Regions from separate parts of the Homo sapiens genome. Here region 1 is linked to region 2. The links come from fine-mapping of genetic effects on gene expression. Tissue or cell type: whole blood. Region 2 holds a variant in brackets; the other region holds the start of a gene. All regions are shown on one strand. Distances are from middle to middle. Region 1 holds the start of TNRC6A (trinucleotide repeat containing adaptor 6A). Region 2 has its middle 25 kb from the start of TNRC6A.

Region 1 (5,385 bases), 25 kb after region 2:
TATGCCTGGCTAATTTTTTATTTTTACTACAGGCCGGGTTTCCTCATGCTGGCCAGGCTGGTCTCAAACTCCTGACCTCAGATGATCTGCCCACTTCGGCCTCCCAAAGTGCTGGGATTACAGGCATGAGCCACCGCGCCTGGCCAAGAAATCATATCTTATTAGCTTTGCTGGAGCTGGGAATTAGTTCCAGGCTTTCTCAACCTTGGTGCTATTGGCATTTTGGTTCAGATACTCCCGTGTTGTAGGGGACTGTCCTACGCATCGTAGAATATTTAGTAGAATCCCTGGTCTGTAGCTATCAGATACCAATCAGTAGCATCCAGTGTGACAACCAAAAAGTTCATTGCTAAATGTCCCCAGGGGTAGGGATGGGGGCAACATTGTCCCAATTAAGAATCACTGAGTCATTAAAACCTAAAAAAGTCTAATAAAAAAAAAATCAGCCAATCTTAACAGCTGTGCAAATGTTGATAAATATGACTGTTTTCATTGCCTTATGTTGTTGTGAAAAATTATTCCTAAACCTGGTATGAAAGCATATTGTGCCATTACGTATATGTTCATATTTTTAAACTCCTAATGAAACACCATAGTAACTTTTAAACATTTTAAGTAGAAAGGATTATGAAAGAAAAACAAATATGTGTGTAGGTAAATGAACCTCAGGGATGATAGCAGGAAAAGGAAAGTCACTAGCATTTATTCGGTGCCCACTACATTTTATATTTTGTAAACCTGATTTTTTTTTTCAAAAAAGTGTTTTTTATATGCTCATCGCAAAAAAGAAAAAAACAGATACACTAAAAGAAGAAAATGAAAAAAAGTCATAATCAGTTAACGTTTTGGTGCATATGTTTCATGACTTTCTGTGCATTCATTCACTAGCTTAACCTATCGGAGAGGACAGGAACCCAACATGTCTAGGGAAGTTTTGTTTGTTTTTAACGGGAGAGATTCAAGCATGTTGTAAAGCCAGTTGAAGCTGGGCGCGGTGGCTCACGCCTGTAATCCCAACACCTTGGGAGGCCGAGGGGGGCGATCACCTGAGGTCAGGAGTTCAAGACCAGCCTGGCCAACATGACGAAACCCCGTCATTACTAAAAATACAAAAATAGCTAGGCGCAGTGGTGCGTGTCTGTAATCCCAGCTACTTGGGAGGCTAAGGCAGGAGAATTGCTTGAACTCGGGAGGCGGAGGTTGCGGTGAACGGAGATCGCGCCACTGCACTCCAGCCTGGGAGACAGAGCGAGACTCCGCCTAAAAAAAATGATAATATAATAAAAAAATAAAAAAAAAAGCCAGTTGAAGAACTTAGGTTAGAAAAAGGAGAATGGGATGATCCACAGAGTGGGGTTTCTGAGAAAGTAAAGGTTATAGATTTTAAGCACAGAGGAGGAATTATCTTTAAATTAGAAGAAAAAGCTTGATGAGAGGTTGGAAAGAACACACGCAAGTGAAAATATGTATCTTACTGTATCTACATGTATGTGTATTGTTGTATCTACCTGCAGATATGTATGTCTTATTGTATCTACATGTAGGTATGTATGTATACTTTTAATGTACACATATGCATCTGTGTCTACATATATACATATCTTAGTCTATCTACATGTATGTATCTTACTGTGTCTACACTAAGATGTTTCTTACTGTGTGAGCTACGTTGGAACCTGCTTTTTCATTTATTCTATTGCAACCATTTCCTCCATGCCGGGATTATTCCTCCACATCATTTTTACAGTGTCCTAATACATGCCAGTAGCTGTTTTTGAAGCCATCTAGTAGCGCTGGACATTTTGGCTGTTTGCAATTTTTCACCATCATCAATACCACAGCTTAGTATCTCGAAGGTGAAATATTTGCAGATACCCAGAATTATTTCCTGAGCAGAAAATCCGTGCAGGCGGAACTGCTGAGTCAAAGGTCGGTGGATAAAAATCGCTTTTAAGCCTCACAACCCGCCTCAGGTATGCATTCTTTACCTGAGGAGGAACAGAGAAGCAGAGAGGTTAAATAACTGGCCCAAGGTCAAAAATAATTAGAAGTGGCTGAATTCAAAAGCCGCGCGGGCTCATCAGGCTGCAGTTGGGGTAAAATTTGCGTTTTAGGCAATTTTTTTTTTTTTTTTTTTTGGCGTGTGTCAGTGGGGGAGGGGCCGGGCGGCGGGTAGGAAACTTGTGTCGCAGCAAAGAAGGAGGAGGAGGGGAGGGACTCCCCTCCTCGGTCAGACCGGAGCCGGCCGCACCGAAAAAGGTTGGACTCGGGACTCCGCAGGCCCCCCCAGCCACTCCGCGGGGCGCCTCGGAGGCTGTGACCTCCAGGGAGGTCCGGCTGGGTGCAGCGTGACACGCCGGGGCGGTTGCCAAGGACCTGCCCAATCTGCGGGTCCAGTTGCTAGGGCCTCCATCTTGGGGGCCAGTGGCCGTGGCGCCCCCGGAAGGGGTTGCCGAGTGGGGCATTCACTTCCGGTCTGGGGCCTGCGGCGGCGGCGGTGTCGGCGGCGGCGGCGGCGGCGGCGGCGGCGGCGGCAGCGGGTCGGTGTAGAAAATGGCGCTGGTGCAGCGGCTCGGGCCTCTCCCCGCGGCGCTGCGGAGGGCTTGAGGCTCGCGAGCCTCCTTCGCCGCGCCCCACTTGCTCGTGCACTTTACACACATGAGGTGAGCGGAACAAGGGCCTCCCTCCGGGCGGGAGGAGCCGCGGGCGCTGCCGCAGGGCCCGCAACCCGCGGCGGCGGCAGCAGAGGCGGCGGCGCCGGGCGTCCCCGAGACTTCGGGCCTCGGCGGGAGGGCGCAGGCTGCGTTGCTGCGGAGGCCGAGCGGGCGGCCCGGGGGAGCCTCGCTGCGCCGCGCCGCGGGGGCCAGGCCGGGGTTGCGCCTCGCCCGCGCCGCGGGACCGCAGTCCGGGCTGCAGCCCCGCAGCTTTGTGAGTCCCCCTCCCCCCGTCCTCTCCCCTCCCCCATCCGGCCCCGGCGCGAGCCTCTGCCGCAGCAGCTCCGTTTTCACGCGCATCTCGTTTTTGTGTGTGTGTTTTTGTTTTGTTTTTGTTTTTGTTTTTTTGTTTCAGAGAATTGGAAGCTAAAGCTACCAAAGACGTAGAAAGAAATCTTAGCAGGTAAGATGGGCGAGCTTTCCGTCTCCCGCCCCACGATAATCGTATATTTCTACTCCGATTCGCCTTTTCTGGGTTGAGAAGTTCCCCCGTGACATTTTCTTCCGCACCCGGAGAGCAGACATTCGGGAGAAGCGGCCTGGGGGAATACTGGAGGGATTGCGGGGAGATGCGTAATTACGCGTGTGTTTCTTTCTTTAAAAAAAAAAAAAAAAAGCGCAAAGCAATTCTTGTAAACTTAGTTAAAGCATTCTCACCCTTTTAGAATTTAATTAGGGGACTTGTGCATTAATTACTATTGTAAATGGTTGCAGGCATTGTGTGACTCATGATTGAGGCGGCCCTTATGGCGGGCTGTCAAACTGTTTTGGCTTCCCCGTTATTACTTTGTAGCTCAAATTGTTGCTTTTATAAAAAGATACTATGTGTTCGCATTCCCCCCCGCCCCCCCCCCCCCCCCATACATTGTAGTCAGGCGGATTCTGTTGCATTGGACACAGTTTTGTCCTTGAACTTTACCAAGCATAAGCTGCGTTTTGTTTTCCTTCGAAACTCCATTTCTGTCCATGTTCGGTGTGTGCTCTTTTTATCAGCTGGTAAAATAATTAAAAATCTTTTCTCCAGAAGAGGTTATCGTTCCTGTTGGGCCCTGCTGCTTTTGCATCACCGTGAAGGGAGAATTTTTTTTTTTTTTTAAACGATGTCTTTATGGAATGGAAATATTTAGCTTCATTGAGCTGTAATTGCTTAAGCATCAAGGAATTGTACTGTATTTAACTCCTTTTCACATTCATTTTCTTTCCTACCGTCTTTTCCTTTCTTATTCCCCTTTTTCTTTTGCATCATATTGGGACACTCAGGGAAACTTAGCCAATTAACCAAATCCGTGAATAGCTTTCTTTTTTTCTTTTTTTTCACTTGTTGAAAATAAAATGAAATTTCTCCTATCTCAGGTTTTAATGTAGTTTGCTCTTGATGATTGCGGGTTTTAGGTTTACATTGGGGTTTTTAACACTCACATTTCAAATCGTCTGAATATTTTGCACCGCGTAGAATTGTTCCAAATTGCTGGCCTATTGAGTTTCATAAGATACTAATCTGTTCAGGTGATCGTTAAAGAATGTGTTCAGATGGTGAAGGATAGGCATCATTGGTTTACCCAGTAAGGGATTCTCTGTTACTCAAAATAATTATGGGATCATTTAAAGGAAATTAAGTCTGACATCACTGACTATTTGTGGTATATTTACATAAATTTTGTCAAAATCTAGTAAGGAAATGTTAAGATATGAAACCATTAAAGAAAACAGGTTGAGCCATTAAGGTGTAATATCAGCAGAACAGAGCTTAGAGGTCTGTTTCTCCTTCCATTTTTGTTTTATCAGGTAACTATATCAGTATAATTCCTATGAAGGTGCTCTAGTACTTAATTAAAAATTGTCTGTGCCACAGGTATAATTTTAATATTAGGTAGAACTCGAGTCTGGGTTGGCTATTTATCAGAGTTTGAATTCCAGCTCTGCTACTTGCAATATGACCTTGACTCTTGGCAAGTCACTTAGCCTCTCTGTCCAATCTATAAAACGAGCGGCGTGGGCCAGCCAGTTGCTGAGGTCTGTTAGGCCCTTTGGGTTACATAAAAGGAGTAAAGTGCTGTCCGTGTTCACAGAGGGCATGTACAGTCTAGTAGAAAGACTATCATAAATGCATAAATAACAGTAGTACTAGGTAGATGACGTAGGAATCAAAAGATACCATCCCATTCATGTGCTTGAGAATATTCAGTCGGTCAGAAGGCATGAAAGGAAAAACAAATATCAAAGAGATTGTAAGGCAGTGTGTACTAAGGATCCAATGAGAGGGGAGCATTTCTTGCAGGTTAAAAGTGTTCTGAGGAAGGAGAGAGGTGATTAGGTGGGCAGATGCTTCCTTCATCTCCATCTCTAGCTGTGTTTCCTTTTTCACAAAAAAGAATGTATCTGTCTTTACCCATAGTGCTCTCTCCAGGAAATCAAGGCATTGTATTCATTGAGTAACCATTTTTTGAGCATTTTCGATATTTCAACTGTGGGACTGGGCACTAAGCCAGGGAAGAATGTAAGTAGTTAAATTTATTGATTGCTTACTATGTGCCTGGCACACTTTTCCTAAGATTTTACATGGACTCATCTGATCCTTGAAAAACCCTGTGAGGTAGGTAGTATTGTTATCTCCGTTTTACAGATGGAGAATTTGATGTATAAAGAGGTTAAGTAACTTGGAGGAGACCAT
Region 2 (5,385 bases):
CCACCTCAGCCTCCCAAAGTGCTAGGATTATAGGCATGAGCCACCATGCCTGGCTCTATCAAATCTTCAAACCTTATCATAGTATACCACTGCTATTTAAGCTATTGCAGATTAGATTGGACCATATGAAATTGTCATTTTTTCAGTAACAGCTTTTTTGAGAAATAATTCACATACCCTACAATTCACACACTTAAAATATACAATTTGGCTGGGCACGGTGACACCTCTTGAAACCAGGGGTTCGAGGCTGCAGTGAGCTGTGATCATCCCACCGCACTTTAGCCCGGGTGACACAGTGAGATGCTAACTCTAAAAAAATAAAGCATACAGCCAGGCGCAGTGGCTCACGCCTGTAATCCCAGCACTTTGGGAGGCTGAGGCAGGCAGATCATGAGGTCAGGAGATCGAGACCATCCTGGTTAACATGGTGAAACACCGTCCCTACTAAAAATACAAAAAATTAGCTGAGCGTGGTGGCGGGCACCTGTAGTCCCAGCTACTCAGGAGGCTGAGGCAGGAGAATGATGTGAACCCAGGAGGCAGAGCTTGCAGTGAGCCGAGATCGCGCCACTGCACTCCAGCCTGGGTGACAGTGCGAGACTCTGTGTCAAAAATAAAATAAAATAAAATAAAATAAAATAAAATAAAATAAAGCATCCAATTCAATGGTGTTTAATACATTCACAGAGTTGTGCAACCATCACCACAATCAATTTTAGAATATTTTATTCACCACCTAAAAAACCCACATTCTTTAACTATCACCCCCATCTCCTGATCACTCACTCCCGGCCCCCAGCAACCACTAATCTACTTCCTCTCTCTATGGATTTACCTATTCGAGACATTTCATATAAATGGAATGACATTATATGTTGTTCTTTGTGTCTGGTTTATTTCACTTACCATAATGTTTTCAAGGGCCAACCATGCCATAGCATGTGTCAGTACTCAACTCCTTTTTATGCCAAATATTAGTCCATTGAATGGATGTGCTAAATTTTGTTAGCTAGATATGGTAGTGCACATCTGTAGTCTGTTACTCAGGAGGCCGAGGTAAGAGGATCACTTGAGCCCAGGAGATTGAGGCCAGCCTAGGCAACATAGTAAGATCCCATCTCAAAAAATAAATTAATATATAAAAACAAACATCATCTCTAGAGAGACAATTCCAGTGAAAAAATAAATTTTATTTATACCTTCATTCATTGATGGACATTTGAGTTACTTCTACTTTTTCCCTATTATGAATAAAACTGTTATAAACATTTATATGCAAGTTTTTGTGTGGATATATGCTTTCATTTCTCTTGAGTATACACCTAGAATTAGAGTTGGTGGGTAATATGGTAAACTCTATGTTTAGATTTTTTTTTGGCCGGGCGTGGTGGCTCACGCCTGTAATCCCAGCACTTTGGGAGGCCAAGGTGGACAGATCACCTGAGGTCAGGAGTTCAAGACCAGCCTGGGCAACATGGCGAAACCCCACCTCTACAAAAGATAGAAAGATCAACTGGGCGTGGTGATGCGTACTTGTAGTCCCAGCTACTTGGGAGGCTGAGGCAGGAGGATCACTTGAGCCCAGGAGGTCAAACCTGCAGTGAAATGTGTTCACACCACTGCACCCAGCCTGGGTGATGGAATGAGACCTTGTATCAAAAAAAAAAAAAAAAAAAATTTTTTTTTGGAGACAAAGTCTCCTTCTGTTGCTCAGGCTAGAGTGCAGTGGCACGATCTCAGCTCACTGCAAACTTCGCCTCCTAGGTTCAAGCAATTCTCCTGACTCAGTCTCCAAGTAGCTGGGGCTACAGGTGTGCACCACTGCACCTGGCTAATTTTTGTATTTGGTAGAGACTGGTGGGGGGCGGGAGGGCATTGCATGTGTGTATTCATATTTTTTAACATACATTGTGACATGATTCTGTGGAACAAATGCAGTGATATAAAATGCTTTTGAAAATTATAACATTAAGGCCAGGCATGGTGGCTCACGCCTGTAATCCAGCACTTTGGGAGGCCAAGGCGGGCAGATCACCTGATGTCAGCCTGGCCAACATGGTGAAACCCCATCTCTACTAAAAATACAAAAAGTAGCTGGGTGTGGTGGCACACACCTGTAATCCCAGCTACTCAGGAGGCTGAAGCAGGAGAATCACTTGAATCTGGGAGGTGGAGGTTACAGTGAGCCAACATCACACCACAGCACTCCAGCCTGGGTGACAGAACAAGACTCCGTCTCAAAAAAAAAAAAAAAAAAAAAAAAAAAAAAGAAAGAAAAAAATTATGACATTAAGTGAGTATAAGGGGGTATATTATTTACGTACTCACTTTTGTAGCAAATCCCCCAGCTGTGCACTTTTCTGGGTGCATGCAATACTTTCACAAGTAAATAAATATCTTTATTTAAAACAGTAATAACAGAAAATCTCAGCACACTAGGGCACGATGGTTCACACCTGTCCCAGCACTTTGGGAGGCTGAGGCAAGAGGATCACTTGAGGCCAGGAGTTTAAGACCAGCATGGGCAACATAACGAGACCCTGTCTCTACAAAAAAATTTAAAATGAACTTAAATTTTTTTTAATTTTTAAAAAGCTTAGCGCAAGTGGAGTCATTCTAGAAAGGTGATGCTAATGATTAGTACCTATATGGTATTTACTATGAACCAATCACTGTTCAAAACACCTTATTTATATTTATTCACTTAAATCCAGCAACAACCCTTTGAGCTAGATGCTATTATTAATTTTGTTTTACAGAGGCAGCAACCAAGGCACAGAGAGGCTAAGAAACTTGCCCAGATCACACAGTTAATGCATGGCACATCTAGAATTTCTAGAGTCTAGAACCAGCCAGGATGGCCTCTCAAACTCTATCTTATACAGACTATCTATTGATATTAGATGAATTTTTTTTTTTTTTTTGAGACAGAATCTCACTGTGTCACCCAGGCTGGAGTGCAGTGGCACGATCTCAGCTCACTGCAGCCTCCAACTCCCGGGTTCCAGTGATTCTCCTGCCTCAGCCTCCCAAGTAGCTGGGATTACAGGCACATGCCACCATGCCCAACTAATTTTTGTAATTTTAGTAGAGATGGCGTTTCGCCATGTTGGCCAGGCTGGTCTCGAACTCCTGACTTCTGGTGATC[C/T]GCCTGCCTTGGCCTCCTAAAGTGCTGGGATTACAGGCATGAGTCACCGCACCCAGCCTTAGGTGAATTCTTAATACTGGTTAAATGAGAATAACTACATGACCTTTCTTAGAGACTACAAGAATATTTAACAAAATTCAATATCCAGTATTGATATGATAAAAACATATTTAAGTTTAAAAATAGCATCTTGTTTAATGTTGCACACTAGAAGCATTTTCCATTAAAGTCAGGAACAGGGTAAGAGAAATAATATTTCCACTTATTTAATATTATTCTAGGTATATAAAGATAAAAAATACAAATTTTAAGAATTACAAAGTGGAGACAACATAATGACTATTTGCAGGTAATATGATTGCATATCTAGCCAATCCAAGAGTACTCCTGGAAAGTCTCTCATAAACAATGAGTTAAGTCAGTAATGTAGTTGGTTACACAATCAACAGCACTTCTATGTTTCAGGGAAAAAGCTAGGAAACAAAATGGAAGAAAACCTTGTACTTAAAATAGCACCAACGCTCACACTTACAACATCAGCAACAACAAAAATGTAGGAAAATGAAAGAAGAAATAAATGAAAATACACACTTTGTTCATCAATTAGAAGATTTCATGATGTAAAGATGCACATTCTCCCTAAATTAAACTTAACCTTTAATTTTATATCAATAAAAATACATTATGAGGTTTTTTTGGAAGTAGCCTCATTGAGTCTAAAGTTCAAATGGAAAAATAAACAAGTGAGGCTAGCCAGGAAAATTTTGAAAAAGGAAAGTAATAAAAAAGAATTAACCCTCCTAGGTATTGAAGCACATTATAAAGCTACATTTATATTTTTAAAAGTTTAGTACTTGGCCGGGCGCAGTGGCTCACGCCTATAATCCCAGCACTTTGGGAGGCCGAGGTGGGTGGATCACGAGGTCAGGAGATCGAGACTATCCTGTCTAACACGGTGAAACCCCATCTCCACTAAAAATACAAAAAATAAAATTAGCCGGGCGTAGTGGCGGGCGCCTGAAGCAGGAGAATGGCGTGAACCCAGGAGACGGAGCTTGCAGTGAGCCCAGATCGCGCTACTGCACTCCAGCCTGGGTGACAGAGCGAGACTCTGTCTCAAAAAAAAAAAAAAAAAAAAAGTTTCGTACTTGTGCATGAAAAGAAAAGCAGATTAATGAAGCAGATTAGAATCTAGAAATAGACCCAAATACATTTGAGAAGCTACTAAATGGTAAAACCATATTTGAAATCAGAGAGAAAAAAATAAAATTAGGCAGTGCAGTAATTGCTGTTAGAGTAATTGGCTAGCCATTTGAAAAACTTAAGTTAAAGCTGGATGCCTGTCTGATTCCTTACGCCAAATAAATTCCAGACAGATAAACGATGTATTTATTTATTTATCTATTTTTATTTATGTATTTATTTATTTATTTATTTATTTTGAGACAGGGTTACTCTGTCACCCAGGCTGGAGTGCAGTAGCACGATCTCAACTCATTGCGGTCTCTGTCTCCAGGGTGCAAGAGATCCTCCTTCCTCACCCTCCTGAGTAGCTAGGGCCACAGGTGCATGCCACCACACTTGGCTAATTTTTGTATTTTTAGTAGAGACAGGGTTTCAACATATTGGCCAGGCTGGTCTCAAACTCCTGACCTCAAGTGATCCACCTGCTTTGGCCTACCAAAGTGCTAGGATTACAGGCATGTGCCACCGCATCCAGCCAGATAAACAATTTAAATGTAAATAAATAAAACAGGATGAAAGGGGAACATGGGCGCACACACACACACACACACACACACACACATCTTAAATAAGAGAAAATCTTTCTAAGCCAGACACAAAACTCAGATGCTAAAAAGAAAAAATTAGCTACATAAAATTCAAAATAGCTGCACAGTATAAAAATACCATAGGCTAAATTAAAAGGTAGGTAACAAGCTAGGAGAAATGTTTCTACAATTCATGCAACAGACGAAGAATAAATGTCCTTAATAAACAAAGAGCTCTTATAATTAAAAAGAAAAAATATGAATAGTTTTTAAATTGGGCAAAGAATGATGTAGCTCACAAAAAAAGAAATATAAATTGCTCATAAATACATAAAAACACACAAAAAATTTCTCAACCTTACTAGTGACTAAAGACATACAAATTAAAGTGAGATGAGTTGGCAAAGATAGTGTTAAATAATGGCCACAATGGGCCAGTGCGGTGGCTCACGCCTGTAATCC

The links. PIP is the estimated chance that this variant, and not a neighbour inherited with it, causes the effect.
Region 1: TNRC6A starts here. The variant in region 2 is fine-mapped to the expression of TNRC6A in whole blood (TOPMed, PIP 0.98).

Annotation. Positions count from the first base shown.
Region 1 is chr16:24,727,184-24,732,568 of GRCh38, forward strand. TNRC6A (trinucleotide repeat containing adaptor 6A) reads left to right here and starts at 2,468. Exons shown (of 25, transcript NM_014494.4): 1 at 2,468-2,663; 2 at 3,070-3,117. The coding sequence starts at 2,659. RefSeq lists a silencer at 2,497-2,806.
Region 2 is chr16:24,702,423-24,707,807 of GRCh38, forward strand. It overlaps a transcript of TNRC6A not described here. Among named protein-coding and RNA genes, the nearest start is that of TNRC6A, 25 kb to the right of the region's middle. The variant C/T (reference allele first, on the strand shown) is at 3,152.